Homo sapiens: one gene and its partners. The protein of the gene in region 3 interacts with the protein of the main gene of each other region in a pairwise test. Each region holds a gene or a part of one and is shown on either strand. Other genes may lie near its edges. The genes, in order: CD300A, CLEC10A, TMEM218 and LSMEM2.

Region 1 (7,038 bases), on a different chromosome or scaffold from region 3:
CGCAGCAGCAGATTGACCAGGAGGCTGATGCAGCCCAGCTTCAGGTCCCTCCATTGCTTGGGCCCTTTCCTTCATGCCTACGTTTGCATTCATAATTTTCTCATCTTTTTCTTAGATTACCCACCCACCAACCCACCCCGCAAACTGCACAACCTTCAGGCCCCACAGAACTCAGCGCTGCCACCTATGTGTATCTACAGGCTAAACTTCTGGAAGTGGCATGTTCAAGCCTGAATTTTGCCTTGTCTTATATGTTGGCAGAAGCCTGTGGAGGGGTTTATGGATGTTGTCCAGTAAAGAATCTGGCTGGCCTTTGTCCCTAGCTCTTAGGAGGGAGGCTCTAAATCCTTGGAATGTCCCAAAAATTAGGAGTGTCTTTGTTGTTCATGAATCACACCTGGACTTTGGTAAGAGATGAGACAATAGGATGGGGCTGGTCACCAGAAAGACCAACTACGTAATTAGAGATTTGGAGCCCTGAGCCAGCCCAACCTCCCAAAGAGGGACTGGAGGTGGAGACAGTTCAATCACATCATGCCTATGTAATGAAACCCCAATAAAAACTCTGGACACCAAAGCTTGGAGGAGCTTCCTGGTTGATAAATATATTGAGGTGCCGCAGGGAGGGTGCAGGTGATGCTCCCTGATTCCACCTGGAGAGGGCACAGAAACTGTTTGGGAATCCTCCCAAGCCTTGTCCTATGTGTCTCTGCATTGGCTGGTCCTAATCTTTATCCTTTATCCTTATGATAAAACTGTAATTGTAAGTATAATGCTTTCCAGAGTTCTGAGTCTAACAAATTATTGAACCTGGGGGGGTCCTGGGAACCCCCAAATTTGCATCCAGTTGGTCAGAAGTGTGGTGGCCTGGGGATCCCCAAAGTTCGACTGGCATCTAAATCAGGGCGGTCTTGTGGGATCTGATTTAGATGTGGAAGCTCTTCACCTGTGGGGTCTGCACTAACTCTGGGTGGATAGTGCCAGGATGGAATTGTGGGGTTTTGTGCTAGAATAGGGAGTCCGTGAATCCCAGAAAAGGTTTGTGACTGCATGTGTTTTTCTGGGGAGAGTGTCCATAGATGTCAGATTCTATGTGGGGTTGGTGAACCCGAAAAAGGTTAAGAACCACTATTTAGAGAGGAGAACTCAAGGCTCTGGAGTCACATAAACCAGAATTGGAAGCTTAGCCTTAGCCTCTTGTAGCTACTTGACTGGGCAAATTGCTTCACCTCGCTGAGTCTCAGTTTACTCATCTGTAAAATGGGGATTGATGTGGGTTGGCTGGGTCCCCACCCAAATCTCATCTTGAATTGTAGCTCCCATATAATTCCCACGTGTTGTGGGAGGGACCCAGTGGGAGATAACTGAATCATGGGGGTGGTTTGCTCCATACTGTTCTTGTGGTAGTGAATAAGTCTCACGAGGTCTGATGGCTTTATAAGAGGAAACCCCTTTTGCTTGGTTCTCATTCTCTGTCTTGCCTGCTGCCATGTAAGACATGCCTTTTGCCTTCTGCCTTGATTGTGAGGCCTCCTCAGCCATGTGGAACTGTGAGTACATTAAAACCTCTTTCTCATTATAATTTATCCAGTCTCGGGTATGTCTTTATCAACGGTGCGAAAACAGACTAATACACGGAATGACAACAGTACAGGGCTGCAGTGAAAGGCAAGTGAGAATACTCATGTGAAGCATCTAACACGGGCCTCGTAGGATGTTACCAGCTGTCAGTAACTATCACTTTCCTTCCATCTGCCCCCCAACTTCCCCCCTACCTGAGCCCCCTTCCAAAGCCAAGGGCAGGTCCAAGCCGGGGTGTTCAGACTATGGCTTCCAACCTGGGCCTGGGGCAAAGGGAGCGATGCACACCTCCAGCTGGCCCACATGGCCAAGGTCCCCGCCCTGGGCTCCTCCTCTTAGCACAGGGCCCCCTCCATGTCTCAGGGGCTAGGGTGCTTACTGTGAGTTCACCACCTCCTCAGTTTCCTCCTGGATGCTGGCACTGTGGGTGGCACCCACTGCAAACAGGGTAGTGGATGATACAGGTGGAAATGCAGTTGTGATTGTTGAGGTCTTGGCCGCAGTGATACTTGCAGGTGTCATTGACGTTGATGCTGGTGGCAAAACCACAAGTCAGACCCAGGGAGCTGTCCTCTGGCTCTCCCACCACTCAGGATGCCTTTTTGGTTTGATTTCACACAAACTGCCCACTAAGGAAGGGGGCAGGATGCAGGACCCTGGGGCTAGAGTCTCTCCAGGACCCTCCTGGGCCAACTGGGCATTTCTGAACAGGACACGGGTGCCACTCCCAGTGGTCCTGATTTTCCATCCTGCTGATGAGGGTCCAGGTGCTCCTGCGAAACTCCATGCTGCAGAGGAGTCTGTCTACACTGCAAATCTGACCTGTCATGTGGTAAGGCTCCCCCTGAGGACAGCAGCTTCCCATCTGGCCCCCCAGCCTCTCTGTTCAGCCCCACCCCTCCCCCACTCAGCTGCACTTCCGTTGGGGCTGAGCCACAGGTGCGCTCCTGGCTCCTTCACAGGCAACGCTCTCTCAGCCTCCCTGTCACTGGACCCTTCCCTTCTTCAATACTGGGCAGACATGTCAGCTGCTCCAGGAGAGACCCCCTGACTGTGTTCCCCTGGCCCCCACCTCTCTCTCTCTTACGCACACACACACACACACTGTCTGCTTCACGTCTCTGATCTGATTCCTGCCCCAACAATTCCAACCTGAGCCTATTTAGGCGCTGAGGGAAGGAGGGGCTCACCCGGGAACACGGACACCTCAACCTCGACAACGGGATCATGAAAGTCTCGGAGCCATGGTGTATCCACCCCACACCAGTAGGTGCCTGCATCCTCCTCTGTGAGATTCTCCAGGGTCACTGTGAAGCTGAGGTTTGCAGGACTGTCCCTGATGGACACTCGGCCGTTCCTTTTTCCTGCTGACCCTTTGGTCTCCACAATCTTGTCACATAGGAAAATCTGTGGTGGTCTGCACCAGTATTTGTTGAGGGTCCTGTGTTCCTTCTCATAGGGACACTGCACACTCAGGGATCCCCCCACGGGGCCCGCCACGGTCCTGCATTTGCTCAGAGCAAAACATCCTGGAAAACACAAGCCAGAGTCCCAGCTCCTCCTCAGATGAGCCTGGTCAGGGGTGCCCTGGGGTCAGGGCCGCATGGACCCTGGGGGTGTGGAGGAGGCAGCGGCAGGCAGAGAGGCCTTGTCCACCCAGGAGCGGGGACTGAGGATGAGAGGCTACCTCCGCACACAGGTGGGAATGGGGCAGAGGCTTTCCATGGAGACCGGAAGAGCTCAGGCTGGGTGCCCTGGAGTCACCTCCTCCAAAGATTCCCCGACTCCACATCAGCACCCCCAGCCCTCAGCCCCTGACTCCTTCACCTCATATCAGCCCCATCAGCCAGATCACAGCTTGAGTATTCTCTTTTCTGCTCTACCACCCTCAAGATTTTGCTCATAGTAGCCCCTTTCTCCAGCCCCCTGCCTCCTTTCCCTTACCCTTCCCACCCCTCTCACCCACCAGGGGCCTCCTGCTTCCAAACCTGCCAGGAGCATGAGAACTCACCCCTAAGCACCTGCACTCCCGGGAGGGCCACCCCAGCCCTGGGCAACCCTGCAAGAGGAAGACCGGCCCACACACTGATCTGGTCCCACCAAGGGGCAAACCCGGGCAGTAATAGGGTTGTCAAGCCATTTTGACAAGAATACTGGCTGGGTACAGTGGGTTATGCCTGTAATCCCAGCACTTTGGGAGGCTAAGGTGGGTGGATCACTTGAGGCCAGGAGTTCGAGACTAGCCTGGCCGACATGGTGAAACCCTGTCTCTACTAAAAATACAAAAATTAGCTGGGCGTGGTGGCATGCGCCTGTAATTGCAGCTACTGGGGAGGCTGAGGCACAAGAATCGCTTCAACCCTGGAGGCGGAGGTTATGTTGAGCTGAGATGGCACCACTGCACTCCAGCCTGAGTGACAGGGTGAGACTCTGTCTCAAAAAAAAAAAAAAAGAGTCACAAACGCAGAAGGCTTGCTGACGAAAACTTTCATCCTGTGTCTTACCTTAGTTTGCCCAGCTCTCCTAGACTTAAATCTCGGAAATAAATGAACTTCCTTGAAAATTATGTCTGACATTTTCCCAAATAATTATCAGATGCAAAGCAAGGAGAGTAAGGTGATGGCTCGAAGCTAGTGTTGGCTGCCAAGCAGAGGACACATGGCCCCTGCCCCAGGCAGATGGGCACAGGCCTGCTGGGCAGTTGTGTGTGCAGTGTCTCAATGCCCTTGTAATTCTGTGATTAGGCCCCATATTGTTCAAGGATGGTGGGGATGGGGGCTTGCTCTTCTTTCCTTGGGTTAGAACTCTTTGATTTTTTTTTTTTTTTGAGATGGAGTCTTGCTCTGTTGCCCAGGCTGGAGTGCAGTGGCGGGATCTCGGCTCATTGCAACCTCTGCCTCCCGGGTTCAAGCGATTCTCCTGCCTCAGCCTACCGAGTAGCTAGGATTACAGGCGTCCACCACACCCGGATAATTTTTGTGTTTTTAGTAGAGACAGGGTTTCACCATGTTGGCCTGGCTGGTCTCGAACTCCTGACCTCAGGTGATCCACCTGCCTCGGCCTCCCAAAGTGCTGGGATTACAGGCATGAGCTACTGCGCCTGGCCAGAACTCTTTAATTTTACTTACTGTTTCAGATGCTAAATCTCCTCACACATGAGACTTTGGTAGGGGTCTCCTTCTTATACCTTCAACGTCTACAGGTGCCTTGCACCTGTAGGCCCTCTACAAAAACTTCAGTGCAAGCTTCTCCTGGACCCCACTAGCTCCACACCCAGCCCACGGCTGCCCAAAGATAAGCTCCTCTGTGCCTCTCCCAGAGTCCCACCCAAACCTCTCCACGCCTGGATGTACACATCCCCCTGCAGAGAAGGCCTTTCTAAGCTTGTCACAGGTGTGATGCTTCCTGAGGCTCTCAGCAGCAATTGCCAGGACAAAGCAGAAAGATCCTCAGAACCATCTGCGTTTACATCTCTACCCTATTACGTATCAGCTGTGTGTTCTGGGGCAAGTTAGTTAACCTCTCTGAGCTTCAGACACCTTGTCTATAGAGTGGTGACAATTGTCCCTGACTCATATGGCCTTTGAGGGTGTTAAATGAGATCACAGGTATAAAATGCCTGGTAAATAACATTAGGTTGAATCACATGAAATGGCTGATATTAAACTTTTTGACCAAGACAACAGGGTTTCACATGACTCCAGCTAATAAAAATAGATAACCTCTGGGCTGACTAAATAAGACATGACAAGAGAAAAGGACCATAGATGAAGAAAGAATGAAGAGTCAAGATATTTTGCAGAAATTCTCTACATAAAATTCATAAACTTAGATGAAAGTTATTTTCTAGAAAAACACAAATCACTAAAATTGACACATATTAAGTACTTAATAAGTAAATGGAGCCTGGGCAACATAGTGAGATTCCATCTCTACAAAAAAATACAAAAATTAGCCAGGTGTGCTGGTGCACACGTGTGGTCCCAGCTACTCAGGAGGCTGAGGTGGGAGGATCATTTTAGCCCAGGAGGTTGTGGCTGCAGTGAGCTATGATCGCATCACTGCACTTCAGCCTGGGTGACAGAGTGAGACCCTGACTCAAATAAATAAATAGGCCAGGTGCAGTGGCTCATGCCTGTAATCCTAGCACTTTGGGAGGCCAAAGTGGGAGGATTGCTTGAGCCTTAGGCATTTGAGGCCAGCCTGGGCAATGTGGTGAGACCCCCATCTCTACCAAAAACACAAAAAATTAGCCAGGCATGGTGGCACGTGCCTGTATTCCCAGCTACTCAGGAGGCTGAGGCGGGAGGATCACTTGAGTCCAGGAGGTGGAGGTTGCAGTGAGCTGTGATCACACCACTGCACTCCAGCCTGGGCGACAGAGTGAGACTCTATCTCAAAAAAAATAAATAAAAACTGTCAGTTCCCAGCCCTCCTTCACCCAAGACACTGTTCCTGCTCCCTGTCCTGACCCGATTCCCTGCCTCTCCTGGGCTGCGAATCGTCATCTTTCTTTGTCCATGTTTTGGCTTCTCTCCTGACCTCAGTGACCCCACCACCTCTGCCCACTGCACCCAATCCTGTCTCTCGTCCTACCTCCAGTGTCTGACTTCCCTTCGGATTTAGTTTCTTTCTCCCTCTCTCTCTCTCCCTCTAGCTCTCTCTCTTTCTCTCTCTCCTGATTAACTTCTCTTCTCTGAAATCTTGGATAAAAAACTGTCACCCAATCATCTCCCCAAAGCTCTGTTCCACCTGTGAGGGTGTCATTATAATTTAGAGATTGCGAAGTGTCAGAAAACCCTCCATTTACTTCCCCACTTACCTGGAACGATCACATGGATCCCCAGTGCTCCCAGGCTTGTGTTTCTGCGCTTTCTCTCTTCCAACCTGAATCACCACCCCAAACCCCTCTAATCATAAACAGGAGACTGGGGACCACCTTGGGGCCAGGGTCCTCTACCAGGATATTCCTCTGTCGTCTTAACGTTTTCCTTGAAGATCACAGAATCTTGACCCATTAACTCTCAGGTAAATGACTGAATTGTCCAACTCAAGAGGTCAGAAGAGGAACACACACACCCACACACAACACAGAAAGAACCAGGTCATCTTTCACGAACTGGTGAATTCACAGAAATCAGTGAATTAAGAAACAGAAAAACAGTGGAGTTAGTATATACATTAATAAATGGATTTTTTTGTAAGGGGTAAATGATTAATTATTTTATTTCATTTTTTTGAGACAGAGTTTCGCTCTTGTCGCCCAGGCCAGAGCTCAGTGGCATGATCTCGGCTCACTGCAACCTCCGCCTCCTGGGTTCAAGTGACTCTCATGTCTCAGCCTCCCGAGTGGCTGGGACTACAGGGTGCACACTACCATGCCTGGCTAATTTTGTGTTTTTAGGAGACACGGGGTTTCACCATGTTGGCCAGGCTGGTCTCAAACTCCTGACCTCA
Region 2 (3,253 bases), on a different chromosome or scaffold from region 3:
TGGACCCCCACCCAGCCATTCTGTGAACAAGGCCAGGCTAAGCTAATGTGGCCCAGTCATCCCCATTGTCCCAGCCCAGAGCCAGCCAAATATGAGACATGGGAGCAAGGCTACCCTAGACCAGCCAACCCCAAGCCAACCCACCAGCTGACCACGGACGCATAAACAAGCCCAGCCAAGATGACCCAAACCTGGCCAGACCAGACCTATAGCCTCATGAGCTATAATAAATGCTTACTGTATAAGCCCTGAGCTTTGAGGTGGTTTGTTACACACCAATTGCTAACCAATACACCTGGGGATCTTATCTACATCTCCCAACAACTCTGGGATCTTCAGAGAAATTAAACAATGGCTTTTCCTAATCACCCTAAGTTTATACCATCTTTAAGTGACAGAAAAGATTTGAACTCAAATCTATATGAGAAGAAAATGCTATTTTCTCAATCACATAGGACTTTCGAAGGCTTCACCTGGCTTCTCCACTCTGCCATTTTTAGATTGCCAAAAATCAAGCAACACAAAGTACGTAAGTTCTCACGAGAGTATATATTCACTTATATGAAGTATATACACGAGAGTGTATGATTTCACTTATATGAAGTTCTAGAAGCTCTAGAAGAGGCAAGGCCAATAAATAGTGAAAAAGAAGTAGATCACTGGCCTGGAAACAGGGAAGTGGTTGGACTGCCCAGAGGCATGAGGGGACTGGTGGGGGCGATGGCAATGTTATCTATTGCGATCGGAGTGGTAGTCACCTAGGCATGCATATTTGTCAAAGTCATCTCTACTCTTTAAATGAGTGCATTTTTATTATGTAAAAATTATACCTTCATGAAGTTGACTTTCAAAAGTTGGAAAAAAAATAAAAGCTTAAGAACACTATACCATCTTTTTAAAATTAAAGAGAAAAAAATTCAAAATGTTAGCAGTGCTTCCAATCTCCCAGTGCTTATTTCTCTCCCAGAGCGGTCTTGCGAGGAGGTCGTGAGAAGAGTCCTCCTCCCACCGCCATTTCTGTGGCCGGGTGGTCCCACCAAAGGCAGCTCAGTGACTCTCCTGGCTGGTCTGACCCAGGCCAGCCTCGCAGACCCAGTGGTAGGGCCTCTGGCAGACGTCGTCATTCCACCTGCCGTCTGGATGGAAGTGAGCACAGTCCTCGCCTCCACCCAGCCCGTGCCCCTGCCAGTCGTCTGGCTGGCCTGGCTTCCAGTTCCTGAGAGGAAAAGACAACAGCAAGCTAGGAAGGGTAGATGGAGTAGAATTCAGTTCAGGGGAGGAGAGGCTGCCAGTCAGATCCCTGGGGGAAACGCTGACGGAGGACATTGGCACAGAAAGCCAGGGTGCACTCACTGGAAGCCGGTCGCATAGTCTGTTCCATCCACCCACTTCCAGGCTCCTTCAGGGTCACTGAGGCCCATCCAGGTGTATGCGGAGCCTAGATATTTCTGGACAAAATTCTGCGGTGACAGAAGGGCAGTGGTGACTTCTTCCCATCCCAGCCAACTCCTTAAACTAGTGATTCTCAACTTTAGCTCTTCGTTAAATCAACTGAGGAGTTTGGAGATGTTTCTCTGGATGCTCAGGCCTATTAAATCTCTGAGGGTGTGGCACAGATGACAGTCATTCTGGAAGCTCCCAGATGATTCCAATGTGCGGCCAAGCTTAAGAACCATTTCCCTAAATGGGACATGTCTTAGGAACTGAGTACCAGAAGCCCTCACCTGCTCCTCCCTGGAGTTGATGACCACCAGGTGGGCGTTCTTCAGCTGGCAGTACTTCTCAGCCTCGGCCCAGGACATCCCAGAGTGAGAGAACCAGTAGCAGCTGTCTTGGTGCTCCACCCAGTTGACAGGGCAGCAGGTCCCTTCAGTGGAGGCTGATTGGGGAGAAATAGGATAGGGTGGAGAGGCTGAGGCTCTGCCCAGTGGGCCATGGGCAGAAAAGTAGGGCCAGGTACTCCCCATACCTTCCTCACCATTGTTGTTGAGAGTAGCCACCTGGCAGGTCAGTTTCTTCAGGTCTTGCACCAGCTGCTGGACTCGCAGGAGCATTTCAGAATGAACTGGGACACACACAGATGGGCAGTGGGGACAGTGGCCTAGGTGTGCCTTCTGCGTAGTGTGTTCCTGGAGCTCAGATACCCCTGCACAGGGCCAAGCCAGGGAATGTTCCTTCCCGCCCCCACCCACCCCCTACATCATGGCCAGGTACAGCCATCAAATCTGCTTTGGATTCCTCTGCCCCTGTTTCTCCAGCCTGCTCTCCAGAGAAAGCATGCTGCCTTTCTTTCTTTCTTTCTTTTTTTTTTTTTTTTTTTTGAGACGGAGTTTCACTCTTGCTGCCCAGGCTGGAGTGCAATGGCGCGATCTCGGCTCACGGCTACCTCCGCCTCCCGTGTTCAAGCAATTCTCCTGCCTCAGCCTCCCTAGTAGCTGAGATTACAGGCGCCCACCACCACACCCAGCTATTTTTTGTATTTTTTTTAGTAGAGACGGGGTTTCACCATGTCGATCAGGCTGCTCTCGAACTCCTGACCTCGTGATCCACCCGCCTCGGCCTCCCAAACTGCTGGGATTACAGGCGTGAACCACTGCGCCCGGCCTGCATGCTGCCTTTCAAGCTGCTGGCTGAAGGGGAGGGCAGTTCAGCACCAGGAGTCTGTTCCCACCTCCACTGTGTCTGAGCGCCTAGCCCCCCACACCCATACTCGGAGGGTCTCTCACCTGCCTGCCGTTCCTGCTTGAAACCCTCCACCTCAGCTTTCAGAGATGCTATCGTTTCTTCCAAGCTGCTGCCTGGAGGACACGGAGACTTGGCTTAGGGGTCAACTTCCTCCTCCCTGGCCTGGCCCCAGCCCAGAGCCCCATCCAAACCAGACTCACCCTGGGAAGTCAGTGCCTGGATCTCCGCCACAGTGTTTGAGGTGAAGTTGCTAAAATCTGTTCTCAGGGTCACCAGGTCCCTCTGAAATTTGGAATCTAAACAGGTGGATGGGAAGGTCAGTGCTGGGATTCATCAGGTCCTCTGTACCAGCACCGAGCAGGGCCCTCCATAAGCATTGCCTTATTGGGTCCTCACGGCAACCCAGTGGGGCAGGCACTATTATTGTTCAATATTGCCGATGAGGAAACTAAGCCTCAGAGAGGTGAAGTAATTTGAGTACATAACCCAACTACTCAGTGACAAAGCCAGCAGCCATCCTGACTATGGGTCCGTCAACTCTCTCCATCACTACCCCCACCACCGTCCC
Region 3 (7,038 bases):
CTGCCTGTTTCTCATCTGTAAAATAATCACAGCAGGTTTCTTTACACATTGAGCAAAAAATAAACCAGAAACACTTCAACTGCAACAACCATGAAATAGAGTTGATACTAAAGTTTCTGTTAAATAACAGAACAAAAAATGGATTGCTTTATGTTAGAATAAAAACATTTAAAAATAAATTGGATGCCCTCCTTCCAGGAAGCAGTGAGGAAGACAGTCTAGACACCTTACAGCCTAGTTCTTCCATGGGCTTACTCCACCAGGACTAGTGCTTTACACCCTACGGGCACACAATATATGCTGAATGAATGGCAGGATTCGAGAATGAATGGCTATGTACTCCCTAGTCCCTGGACATTGGTATGGTAATTCTGATGCAGTTTTACATTAAATTTACATTGTACACAAAGAATGGTAGCTTTACTTCCATTTTTATCAGTGAAAAATTTAAGGAACTTAACAAATTACCCATTGTGATCTCCATTGTGGGGATAGGGTGGTATCCTCCTAATTCAGCTTTTGTCAGGATACAATTTTAAGACGCCACGAAATAACCTATTTTCTTATATAGAAACCCAGATTTACTCTCCCTCTCCACCTTCTAAACAGTGGGGATCACCAGTCTGCCACAGGATCCCCTCTGGGTAGGGAACAGTAGAGGGAACATGTTCTAAGGCCACTGATCACAGAATGGTTCTGAACACTAAGATGACTTCTGTCTGTATTTAAGGAATGACCTCTGAGCCCTGTCTCCAAGAAGGCCATGAGCATACAGGGTACCATAACAGACATTGACTATAGGGTTATCCCATGCCAAACTCTCAGTGAAATCCATTTTGAGCCCTCTCAGCCTTCTACGTCTTATCCCAACCCTGCGGGGCTTTTTTTGCATAACTGCATTGAGTATGCAGGTAGAAAGAAATCTATCATTCATTTCACCACAGCTGGTAATTATAGACTCCAGGTCTGTAGACTGTAGGTCAAGTCAAGCTGAAATAAACTTTGCACAGGGTATTTTTTTTTTTTTCCTAAAGCCAATCTTTAACATATATGCCTTTCATTTACATCAGGCAAAAAAACAAAAATTAGAAAACAGTAGTATTAAGGATAGAATTTAGTTTCCAACCTTAATACACTTTCCTCCATCTAAATAGTCACCCAAAACCTCATAGTTATTATCCATTGATCTAATAGTTGAATAACTTTTGGGGGGAATAAAAAAGATGGATTCATGGTCAGGAACCTATAAGAGTTTTCCCAGAGTTACTTTTTTAGCAAGGCTCTCAGAAGAAGGTAACAATTGGCAGCTTGTGCTTGTTAGGAGCCAAGCTTCCACTTGGGCTGCAGGGAGACTCACAATAGCATGAGGCCCCCAGCTTGTCTCAATTCCCTCAAGACTTATGCATTCTTTTTTCTCTCCCTCAATCTGCTTAGAGGATGTTTCTTCTTTTCTTACCTGTGTGCCCTAGGCCAGATTAGGAAACTATTTCCTTTGAAGTTTTCTGTACAAAGCCTTATCTGCAAAGTTTTTCCAAACTAAGTAAGATAAAGGAAATGGTTCAATGTAGGGATAACTATACCTGGCCCTCACCAGCCCATGACTCTCAGTGGTTACCTGTTCTCTCTTCTTGGAATTTAGAGCTTAGTTGCCTGTGGGGTGGCAGGACTGGGTAACTTCTCTACCCTGAAAACAGAATTGAGGAGAGAAAGTGAAGGAACAGTGTGGCCTTAACCTACCTGAAGCTCTCAATCAGAGTTCCACAAACCCTAGTGTGTTTTCTCTCTGAGACAAGCCCTGGGGCCTACCACACCTGGGTTTGCACACTGGCTGTTAGGTGAAGGTTGGGCAAGTCAGCTGATCTCTTTAAGCTTCCATTTTTTCTACTTTAAAGTGGGGATGATAAAAATGAGACCGTTGTAAAAATTAAATAAATTAAACCTCAAAGGAATTAGTGTGCTATTGGCATAGAGCACATACTCCATCAGTGATCTCTTTCCAACTTGTTTTCTTGGTTCTTAATTTTAAGCCAGAAGATTCTTTTTCAAATGGCTCTAGGGAGTCAGGATCAGACTTCCAAAGTGGAACCTGACCAGGGCCCCTCCATTTAATGCAAATTTCATTTGGTCTGGGAGATCAGACAGGTATAGAGTTATATCTGATGTTGAGAATATACCTTCCTCACTAGCTTTGGAGAAAGGGCTACAAAGATGAAAAGTGAAGACACCCCAAAATGGACTCATGGTAATTAAATAAGGCACACACAGCCCACCACATCATGGAAGAAAAAAACCTACAGATACATGGCAAGACAAAAAACAAAAAACAATATTTCCATACCTTTCCTCTAATCCCAAGGAAACCTAAAGAACTTGATTAAAAAGCCGTGGCCAAGAGTTCGAAGTGAAAGTCAGCCCTTTAGCTATTATTTATTGCTTTATTAGAGCAGAGGGAAGTGACACTCATTGCCTTCACAGAGCTCTGCAGAAATATATGCACAGAGTGGTCAATGACCAACATCTGAGTAAGTCTTCCAAATTATCACATTAAAATAACCTTTCAAATTTGAGTGCCTCTCCTTTGCAAACAACTGCAACCTCATAATGAATAATTTTATATATTATCAAAAAGAACCAGAAGCCCAGGTGCTTTTTTCCCCAAAATCCACTTACTAAGGACTTGAGTGAAAATCCACTCTAAGCAGATCACTGTTACTATTTCCCTTTCAAAACAGTTGGAAATCCTAAGGTACGGGTACTAAGAAGATAGCAATATCCTTCTTAAGCTGGTAAGAATCTAGCCCCACAGGGACAATTTGGCAATCCTGTTTCTGGAAGCCAGGACTCCAGAGATTTGTCTTAGTGATGGACAGATACTCCTCTAACCTTAAGGCATGAGGGCTGTCAAAACAAGGCTCTGAATAGTGCCTTCCTGCTCATCAATGTCATCACAATGAAGGAGAGAACAGGTTTTCGTTTTCCTGAAGAGTGGTCAGTAGGAGTGCAGTGGTTTGGCATAGATCGGCTCCAGAACATAATGGATTAAAACCAAGAAGAGGCCTCCAAGGAAGATGGCACTAAGGAAAGCCAGCAGGACATAGCGGCCAATGAAAAAGTCATCCACAATCTGGAGAAAGAAAACATCAAAATGAAATTACTACCAGTTAGACACCCTGGCTGGGTTAACCTGAACTCCATGATGAGTGGGCCAAGAGTTAGTTCATGTGTATAACTTCCAGTAACATCCTGCCCTGAGTCTCCTCTGTACATGAGAAAAAAGAATCTTTTCCTCAACTCCCTGAGCAGGAGACACAAGAAGGGATTAATGAGGGACAGGGAACAAATGGCTCAATTTAGGATGTTGGTAAACACTTTGAAGTCCCTGGATGAATTCTTTTATATTCTGAAATCTGTTACCTGAAAGAGTTAATGAGAAGCTTTTGCATGGTCCTAGAAAGGCTCATTTTTGTTGTTGCTAAAATACATTTTATTACGGAGAATTTTAAACATACATAAAAATGCAATAGTATAATAAACTCCCATGTATCTAAGACCCAACCCCCAAAATCATCAATCCATTGCCATTTCAGGAGGGTTCATTTTCAAAATGAAAGGTGACTCTTTAAAGCTATCAGCGGAAGAGTCCCATGCCACGGGGCAGGGAAAATGACCATTTACCTGAGATACTAAAACACTAAAAGGATAGGTAACTTGCCCCAAAGCAGACAGTGGGCTGCCTGGCCTTACACTTGAGGCCCCAAAGATGTTGGTCTTTGCTGACAAAACCCTATAATTGGTGTTGGCTCTACCCACTTGTCCACTGACCCCTTCCAGAGCTCCACTCTCCCCAGATCCAAATGGTGGTGCTTAAATTTGGGCAGGAAAAAGCAATTTAATCTATAGACCTAATGGAGCAACACCACCAACCAAGTGGCTGACTGACTTCACAGAAACTTTGAAATCCCAGTACCTAGGAGAATCCAAAACAGCTGAAAGGCAATTGTGGCAGACAGAATAATGGCCCAAAGATATCCACATCCTAATCCCCAGAAATTGTGAATATGTTAGATTATATGTTAAAGGAGAATTAAGATTGCCAATCAGCTGCCCTTAAAACAAGGGGTATTAATCTGGATTATCCAATCCAGGTGGACCCAATCTAATCACAGGATCCTTCTAAGTTGAATAGGGAGGTGGGAGAGAGGGTCAGAGCAAGAGAGGTGAGGATGGAAGCATCAGTGAGGTGTGATGTCACTGGCTCTGAAGATGGAGGAAGGGGGCTGTCAGCCAAGGAATACGAGCAGCCTCTAGAAGCTGGAAAGGATAAGGAAATGGATTCTCCCCTAGAACTTCTGGAAAGGAATGCTGCCCTGCCAACCCCTTGGTTTTAGCCCAGTGAGACTGATGTTGGACTCTAACCTACAGAACTGTAAGATAATACATCTGTGTTGGGAGCCATTAGTTCACATAATTTGTTACAGCAGCAACAGAAAACTAACACAGCGGCCATACACAAAGTATCTCTCAGACCCGAGCCCTAGTAGGATCACTGAGGTCCAAAGACACCTCAGCTGCTCCAGAGATTACCCCAACAGTCAACTTACAACAAAGGTCAGTTTGATAAAACAGCTTTAACATAACTTTGACCTTGGCTCCGGTACTGAACAAGTCTCTTGCGGGCCACATGTTTGCTCGTTCGACACGTTTCACTTTTTAATTAGCCAATTAGCAGGCCTTGGGTGCAGAAGGCCCAGGCCATGTATTATTGATACAGCATTGAGCCAGGCTGCTGCAGAGGCCCGCTCTCAAAACCTGAAAATGAGAACTCCAATTCTGCCGGCCATGCTGACAAAAGTATTTTGCTCAAACCCCATTCTTGTCTCCTGGGTCTGAAACTCATATGACAGACAATCGAGGGATTGATTTCAAAAATGTGTTTGCTCTGTGCCCTTCTCCCGATGTTTACATCTGCAGCATCCAGAAATGTGGCAGCCCACATCACTCTCCCCCTTAAAAGACAAGGAAAGCAGCTGGGTGCGGTGGCTCACGTCTGTAATCCCAGCACTTTGGGAGGCTGAGGCGAGTGGATCACCTGAGGTCAGCAGTTTGAGACCAGCCTGGCCAACATGGTGAAACCCTATCTCTACCAAAAATACAAAAATTAGCTGGGTGTGGTGGCACATGCCTATAATCTCAGCTACTCGGGAGGCTGAGGCAGGAGAATTGCTTGAGTCCGGGAGACGGAGGTTGCAGTGTGCCGAGATCATGCCACTGCACTCCAGCCTGGCCGACAGAGCGAGACTGTCTCAAAAAAAAAAAAAAAAAAAAAGATAAGTGAGGTGTGAATTTGCCCCTGGCTCACACATGTGGTACCCACACCTCCAGAGTGTTTTCCAAATACTGACAACAAACTTGTGTCCATGGAAATAATTCCTTAAGTGTGTGTGGTAAAGTACTATTTCCCTTGGAGTTTAATTTCCTTCCTCTTGCCATAGTTAATCCTACAGTGTCAATTTTAGTTCAAAAGTTACACATATAATCTTGTGTACTGTTGTTGTCTAGTGTCAAAATGCTAACCCATGAGCTCTCTGGGACTGCCCTGAATATTCTGTTAAGTTCTCAACACTGAAGATTTTGAAGACGGACCTCAGCTTGAATCCCTGTTCTGCCTCTTGCTATGTGACCTTGGGCAAGTTACCTTAACCTCTGACAGACTCAGTGTTCTTACCTATAAAATGGGGATAATAATGGTACCTATGTCATACTACTTAGGGCTGTCCTGAGGTTTAAATGAGACAGTGCAAACAAAGTGTTTGGCACAGGACCTGGCACACGGAAATCCCTTAAAGAATGTTAGCTATTTTCATGACTATCACTTAAAACATCAAAATGAAGGTTGAGAGGAAAGCTGTGAGAAGGAGTAATGGGACAGAAAAGGTCAATGTCATTGTCAAGATCCCATGGGTCTGAGACCAGCCATGCATGGTAAAGCCATGGTAAAGAACTCCAGAGAAGGATTCTGAGAGAGATGATAAAAATCCATTTAAAGACATGGGTGCTGGCAGGTATGGTCCCAGGTATGAGGACCAAAGAACTCCCAGAAGACTGTTGGGAAAATTCTAGCACATGCAGTTGGAGAAGCATGTCCTCAGCACCCTCAGGGCACCACATCAATTTCAGCCCAGGATCTGCAGTTAGGAGCCCAGGCTGCCAGGAATGGGAACACTTCATCTCGGGTGCAGGCCTGTGACTATCCCTATTTCATTTTCTTTTTTTTCTGTCCCCATGGTACGAGGTGGCTTTCCAACAGGCTGTTTTCAACTTGATGCAAACTGAAGATGAGACCAAATCAGGCAAATAACTGCCTGGTGGGGTTGTAGATGGAATTCAGAGTAAGATTCTTTTCCTGAGTGAAGGGGCAGGGGAACTTAAAACTCCCTCTGAACTTTCCCCGTCATTGGTTGAACTTTACAATTCTGACATCTCAGGCAACCCGATGTCAGGGAACATCAAGGGCAGGACGGATGTGCAGACCAAGAGAAATAAGAATCACAGCTCAGGAGGCAAAACGAAAGCAACAGCTTTACCTTAACTTCCACTTCTGGGGCTGGGAATTCACCAGCTCGCGGGAAAAGCAACAGAACTGATGTGATGATCACAGCACCGAAGAATAAAAAAATGACAGAGAACCTGGGGTTAAAAAGACAAATTATTAAAAGCACTGTCTATAATTTCTTCTTTGATCAGTTAGGTCTGGACAGTCTCTTCCTTGGAGCCAATATTCTATGTTTCAGTCCCTTAACAATGTCCAGAGGCCTGCTGTCAACAACCTCTTCATCCCAAAGTCCTTCTTCCTAGACAGGTACCAGCTGGGTGCATTCCCATTTATTCTTGGTAATTCCCAATTCCTAAGAATGGAAATGTGTAGTTTTTATTTTTACTTCTGCCCAAAGTCATAATCAAGAAAAACCAAAGCATCCCCTCTCCACCTCCACTTCTGTTGTTTTTAGAACAGAATACTTTAGAAAATTCTACAACTCT
Region 4 (6,566 bases), on a different chromosome or scaffold from region 3:
GAAGTGCTGGGTTCGGGCATGCACCACCACCTCCAGGTGCGGGGACGGACAGGGAGGGGACATCTGGTGTGGTTGCTTCAGTCTGGCCTGAGCTCACTGCCCTCTGCCCCCCAGAACAATGAGCTACTCCGTGACATCTTTGGCCTGGGCCCTGTGCTGTTGCTGGATGCCACTGCCCTGAAGGCCTGCAAGGTTCCACGCTTTGAGAAGGTTTGCACCCTTGGGCACCTTTCTCTTCCCCCTATTCCCATTTCCTGGAGGCCTGGAATTCTGTAGAGGCCGGAAGAGGACCCCCAGCCCTTTCCCTTCCCAGCTCCCCAGGGTGTCACTCTCTGTCCCCACTCTAGCACCTGTACAATGCTGCTGCCTTCAAAGCCCGGACCAAGGCTCGAAGCCGTGTGCGGGACAAGCGGGCAGACATCCTGTGAAGCAGGACCTGCTGAAGAGGAGACTTTCTATGCCCTTGGTCCGTATTTTTAACAGAAGACAGTGCAACAACTGGTCTCCACCAGTATTTGTCACTTTATTTTTTTTAATGACAAAACCAAAAACAGACATGGGGTGGGTAGCTGGGGGCCCGGACACTTGGGACCCTGACCCCTTTGTCCCTGCACTCAGCCCTGTGGCCCCTTCCTGTCCTGTCTCAGGCCAGGCTAAATATGTGCCTTCCTCAGGGCTGTGGGGCAGGCACTAGGGGGCCTTTCCCTTCCTTTCCTTTCTCAGGCCTTGCTCCCCCAGGATGACCCACTCTTAGGGGGGTGGTGGCATCTGGACAAATGCCACCACAGCAGGTGGGGTGGCAAAGCTACCTGGAATGGATTTGTGTGCTGATTTTTAAGGATTATTACAGATAATTAAACAGAACGGTCAGCCTTCTGTGGTCTTAACCCCTGGGTATTTTTCTGTTCTCCCTCCCCATCTACTATCCCAGGCTTGGGCCCAACTGGTCTTCCACGATGTCACCTTTGCCCTCCAAGGCAGTCTTCCCCAGGTGGTGCCTCTCCCCCTACTCAGAGCCCAGCCTGTCTTTAAGAGCTGAGGCTGGACCCTCACTGGGAGCCCTGGCAGAGTTTGGGTGATTGCTATGGGGGCAGCTATTTCTAGACTTCAGAACCTGCCATCTGGGGTGGCCAGAGAGTGTTGACAGGCCACAGGAGGAGCCAGGAGGCTGGTGCCCCTTCCCCTGACCTTGGGCCACCCAAAGCGAGGCTTTGGCACCAGAGGCTTGGCTAGGCCTGGCTTGAAGAGATCAGGAGAGGGAGGCAGCCATTAAGTTAACAACAGGTTCTTGTACAAAAATCTCACCAAGGAAATAGTGTAGATGTGGCAGCCAGCAGTAGGGAAGGAGAGACCTGCCCATAGCCACTTTATTCCCCCACCAACACACACCCCCAGGCCCCAGATCCAAATGGCATCTCAGCTGGGTGCTTGGGCCTCACTGGAGTTGAGCCTCCGAAGCTGGCTGAGGCTGGCCAAGCGGAGTTTGAGTAGTGTCTCCTCCTGCGTGCGGAGCGTGTGTGCCAGGATGCGCAGGGATTCACTCTGCAGCACTGTGAATGGGAAGTGGGGGATCATCAGACCATGTGCCACCCCGTGACCCCTGCAGACCCAGCCCAGGACCAGGGGCAGCCACGGGCCTCCCGCCCCATCCTTCACTGCTGCAGCATCTGCAGTTACTCCTTCCAGCTGCACAGAAGGGCCTCCCAGTCCCCACTGCCTTGCTTTCCATTCCTACTAGCACCCTATGCGTCCATACCGCTCAGGTAGACAGCCAGGAGTGCGAGCACTAGGCAAGTGAGCACCAGCAGCGCGAGCAGCAGCAGGAACCCTCCTCGTCTGTACACAGGGCTGCAGCCAGCCTGGGCACACAGTGACGGCGGCAAAACGCCCAGCAGCTCATCCCACGGTCGTGCCTCTTCAGTTAGATAGGGGCGCAGTGTGCCTGCTGGGTGGATGGGACATTGGGAGGGTGGTGGGTGCACCTGCTTTCGTCCCCTCCCCCAGCACATCATCCACCCCACTGTCCCCACTCACCTCCACTATGTAGGTCGCTGATGGACTCCACCTGGTGCAGGCATACCTCATGCACGTGGTTGGGGGCCAATGGCCCCCTGCTCCTCTGGCTGGGCATCATTGGCGCCACGGAGTCTGCAGGGGCAGCGCAGGCTGATTTAGCCAGTGGTGGGTCAACCCCCTTCCTTCTACCAGGTGGCTTCAGGCAGCAAGGACTTGCGGATGATAGGGATAGTGGGACATTTGGTTCCAAATCCCCTAAAACTGACTCAGGAATTACCCTTGATTTGGATCCAGGATGATCCCAGACCCTTACAGGCTTATTCTGTATACAGGAGCAACAGGTACATTTGATTTGTTTCCTTCCAAGCACCCCAGGGACTCACTCAGGCATTCCTCTGCCTGCTTATTTCTAGCAGTTTATCAGCCTTGAATGCTAAACCTGCAGCAAATGGAATTCAGTCCTGCCTCTTTTGTCAGTTCTCCCTGCAGACCCAATGCCTGGCATCTTCTGGTCAGAAAGCCCTATTGTAGCCACTCTGGTGCCTTTCCCTCCTGGCCTTGGTTCTGTGTTTGTTAACATACTCAGTGTGACTCTGCTGTACATGTGTGAACCCTGCTGTTTTCATTCAACATTTACTGTTGGGGAGACCCTTCTTTGTTATACTGTTGCACATGCCTCTGAGGTCTCTCCCTTCACACATCTCCCTGAGGCTGCCTGGGCATCTAGGTTGTTTGCAGTCCCCGCCCCCCTTTTTTTTTTGAGACGGAGTTTCGCTCTTGTTGCCCAGGCTGGAGCGCAATGGCGCGATCTTGGCTCACCGCTGCAGTTCCCTTTTGAAATTAACCCCCAGGACATCCACCGTTGAATATGAAGGTTTTTTCCCAATTTCCTGATAGTTTAATTCCCAGAAGTGGAATTACTGGATCCAAGAGCAGGGATTTTTGTTTGTTTGTTTGTTTTTTGAGATGGAGTCTCCCTGTATTGCCCAGGCTGGAGTGCTATGTCGTGATCTCGCCTCACTGCACCTTCCACCTCCTGGGTTCAAGCGATTCTCCTGCATCAGCCTCCTGAGTAGCTGGGATTACAGGCGTGTGCCACCACGCCCAGCTAATTTTTGTATTTTTGGTAGAGATGAGGATTCACCATGTTGGCCAGGCTGGTCTGGAACTCCTGACCTCAAGTGATCTGCCCGCCTCGGCCTTCCAAAGTCCTGGCATTTACAGGCATGAGCCACTGCATTTGGTCGTTTTTTGTTTTGGTTTGGTTTTTTTAAGATGGAGTCTCCCTCTGTCGCCCAGGCTGGAGTGCAATGGCAAGATCTCGGCTCACTGCAACCTCTGCCTCCCGGGTTCAATCAGTTCTCTGCCTCAGCCTCCTGAGTAGCTGGGATTACAGGCGCCTTCCACCACACCCAGCTACTTTTTATATTTTTAGTGGAGATGGGGTTTCACCATCTTGGCCAGGCTAGTCTTGAACCCCTGACCTTGTGATCCACCCACCTCGGCCTCCCAAAGTGCTGGGATTTACAGGCGTGAGCCACCGTGCCCGGCCTGTTTTTTTGTTTTTGAGACAGAGTCTTGCTCTGTTGCCCAGGCTGGAGTGCAGTGGCGCAATCTTGGCTCATTGCAACCTCCACCTCCTGGGTTCAAGTGATTCTCCTGTTTCAGCCTCCCAAGTAGCTGGGATTACAGATGTGTGCCACCACGCCCTGCTAATTTTTGTATTTTCAGTAGAAACCAGGTTTCACCATGCTGGCTAGGCTGGTCTCAAACTCCTGACCTCAAGTGATCCGCCCGCCTCAGACTCCCAAAGTGCTGGGATTACAGGCGTGAGCCATCGCGCCTGGCCTGAGATTTTTGTTTTGTTTTTGAGACAGATTCTTACTCTTTCACCCAGGCTGGAGTTCAGTGGAGTGATCACAGTTCACCGCAGCCTCCACCTCCTGGGCTCAGGTGATCCTCCTGCATCAGCCTTCCCAGTAGCTGGGACTACAGGCATGCACTACCATGCCCAGTTAATTTTTTTTGTATTTTTTGTAGAGACAGGGTTTTACTATGTTGCCCAGGCTGGTCTCGAGCTCCTGGTCTCAAGAGATCCATCCTGCTTGGCCTCTCAAAATGCTGGGATTACAGGTGTGAGCCACCATGCCCGGCCTGATTTTTTTTAAAGCTATTACCAAACTGTCCTCCAGAAGCACTGTCCACAGCTCCCCCGCAGGGTATAATATTGCCACCATTAGGCATCCCCATAGGAAAAAAATTATATTTACATGCACACGTGCACACATATATTTGCTAACTTGAGAGATGAGAAATGGTCTTTCTTATTTTATTGGGTTTCTTAGCCTAGGGAGTGTGACTAATACGTGTGTGGCGCTTTTTTTTTTTTTTTTTTTTTTGAGACAGTCTTGCTGTGTTGCCCAGGCTGGAGTGCAGTGGTGCGATCTCAGCTCACTGCAACCTCCACCTCCCAGGTTCAAGCAATTCTCGTGCTTCAGCCTCCCAAGTAGCTGGGACTACAGGCACCTGCCACCATGCCTGGCTAATTTTTGTATTTTTAGTAGAGACCAGGTTTTGCCATGTTGGCCAGGCTGGTCTCAAACTCCTGACCTCAAGTGATCCACCCGCCTTGGCCTCCCAAAGTGCTGGGATTATAGGCGCAAGCCACCATGCCCAGCTGTGTGTGGCTTCTTAATTATCAATTTGAAGCCTCTGCCCATTTAGTCACTTGGGTCTGTGTACTTTTCTTTTGATTTTAATTATGTACTTTCACACTCATTGAAGTTTTTGCTTTTTGTTTGTTTGTTTGAGACAGAGTCTCTGTTGCCCTGGCTGGAGTGCAGTGGCACGATCTGGGCTCACTGCAACCTCCGCCTCCCGGGTTCAAGGGTTTCTCCTACCTCACCCTCCTTAGTAGCTAGCACTACAGGTGTGCACCACCACACCCTGCAAATTTTTTTTTTTTTTTTTTTTTTTGAGATGGAGTCTCGCTCTGCCGCCCAGGCTGGAGTGCAGTGGCACGATCTCGGCTCACTGCAAGCTCCGCCTCCCAGGTTCGTGCCATTCTCCTGCCTCAGCCTCCCAAGTAGCTGGGACTACAGGCGTCCGCTGCCATGCCCGGCTAATTTTTTGTATTTTTAGTAGAGATGGGGTTTCACCATGTTAGCCAGGATAGTCTCGATCTCCTAACCTTGTGATCCGTCTGCCTCAGCCTCCCAAAGTTCTGGGATTACAGGTGTGAACCACCGCGCCCGGCCAATTTTTGTATTTTTTGATAAAGATGGGGTTTCACCTTCTTGGCCAGGCTGGTCTTGAACTCCTGACCTCAGGTAATCCACCCGCCTCAGCCTCCCAAAGTGCTGGGATTATAGGCGTGAGCCATCGCACCCAGCCGGTGTTTCGTTTGTTTGTTTGTTTTTGAGACAGAATCTCCCTCTCTTGCCATGCTGGAGTGCAGTGGCGCAATCTCAGCTCACTGCAACCTCCGCCTCCCAGGTTCAACCGATTCTCCTGCCTTAGCCTCCCGAGTGGCTGGAACTACAGGCACGTGCCACCACGCCTGGCTAATTTTTGTATTTTTAGTAGAGACGGGGTTTCACCATGTTGGCCAGGATGGTCTCGATCTCTTGACCTCGTGATCTGCTCACCTCAGCCTCCCAAAGTGCTGGGATTACAGGCATGAGCCACCATGCCTGGCCTTTTGTTTGTCTGTTTTTTTTGAGACAGAGTCTTACTGTGTCACCCAGACTGGAGTACAGTGGCATGATCTCAGCTCACTGCAACTTCTGCCTCCTGGGTTCAAGTGATTTTCCTGCCTCGTCTCCCCAGTAGCTGGGATTACAGGCACGTGCCACCATGCCCAGCTAATTTTTGCATTTTTAGTACAGCTGGGGTTTCACCATTTTGGCCACGCTGGTCTTGAACTCCTGACCTCAAGTCATCTGCCCATCTTGTCCTCCCAAAGTGCTGGGTTTACAGGCATGAGCCACCGTACCTGGCCAATATTTAATTATATTTTCTTCTAGTTGTTCTTTAACTTGATGTCTAAAAATCCTGGTCCAGATGCCAAGAGCTCCAGATACCCACCTGGAAGCTGATAACAGTAGGGAAGAGCATTGAGGGGACACCTCCAGATAGGAGCAAGGGTGGCCTTGCACTCTGGGACTGTCATTCTCAGGACAGTAACTCAACCTCCATGATTTACTTGAAACTGCCTCTTGACGTGCTCAAAAGCAAGTACAACAAAAACAAGCAAGTGCTGCCAGTCATTATGTCTGGGTGGTGGGTTGAAGGTCATATTAAATTCTCTCTTTGGGCCGGGCACTGTGGCTCATGCCTGTAATCCCAGCACTTTGGGAGGCCAAGGCAGGAGGATCATTTGAGTCTAAGAGTTTGAAACCAGCCAGGGCAACGTAGGGAGACCCCATCTCTACAAAAAAATCAAAGATTAGGGCCGGGCATGGTGGCTCACACCTGTAATCCCAGCACTTTGGGAGGCTGAGGTGGGCGGATCACGAGGTCAGGAGTTCAAGATCAGCCTGGTCAACATG

The links.
Region 1: the proteins of TMEM218 (region 3) and CD300A interact in binary tests that used the Homo sapiens proteins (3 or more experiments, as listed by UniProt).
Region 2: the proteins of TMEM218 (region 3) and CLEC10A interact in binary tests that used the Homo sapiens proteins (3 or more experiments, as listed by UniProt).
Region 4: the proteins of TMEM218 (region 3) and LSMEM2 interact in binary tests that used the Homo sapiens proteins (3 or more experiments, as listed by UniProt).

The regions. Positions count from the first base shown.
Region 1 is NC_000017.11:74,469,608-74,476,645, reverse strand, and holds part of CD300A (CMRF35-like molecule 8 isoform 1 precursor), read right to left. Parts: intron 3,111-7,038; coding exon 2,772-3,110; intron 2,115-2,771; coding exon 1,961-2,114; intron 1-1,960. UniProt on the Homo sapiens protein: Inhibitory receptor which may contribute to the down-regulation of cytolytic activity in natural killer (NK) cells, and to the down-regulation of mast cell degranulation.
Region 2 is NC_000017.11:7,074,007-7,077,259, forward strand, and holds the end of CLEC10A (C-type lectin domain family 10 member A), read right to left. Parts: intron 2,982-3,253; coding exon 2,886-2,981; intron 2,799-2,885; coding exon 2,727-2,798; intron 2,147-2,726; coding exon of another isoform or gene 2,066-2,146; coding exon 1,979-2,065; coding exon of another isoform or gene 1,970-1,978; intron 1,880-1,969; coding exon 1,725-1,879; intron 1,461-1,724; coding exon 1,354-1,460; intron 1,217-1,353; coding exon 1,048-1,216; 3' UTR 531-1,047; downstream 1-530. UniProt on the Homo sapiens protein: C-type lectin receptor involved in recognition of N-acetylgalactosamine (GalNAc)-terminated glycans by myeloid antigen presenting cells (APCs).
Region 3 is NC_000011.10:125,094,617-125,101,654, forward strand, and holds part of TMEM218 (transmembrane protein 218), read right to left. Parts: intron 6,906-7,038; coding exon of another isoform or gene 6,828-6,905; intron 6,688-6,827; coding exon 6,585-6,687; intron 3,125-6,584; coding exon 2,990-3,124; 3' UTR 1-2,989. UniProt on the Homo sapiens protein: May be involved in ciliary biogenesis or function.
Region 4 is NC_000003.12:50,282,053-50,288,618, reverse strand, and holds the end of LSMEM2 (leucine-rich single-pass membrane protein 2), read right to left. Parts: intron 2,149-6,566; coding exon 2,035-2,148; intron 1,946-2,034; coding exon 1,757-1,945; intron 1,551-1,756; coding exon 1,417-1,550; 3' UTR 505-1,416; downstream 1-504. Other genes in the region: IFRD2 (interferon-related developmental regulator 2), read left to right, coding at 1-36, 115-210, 348-428.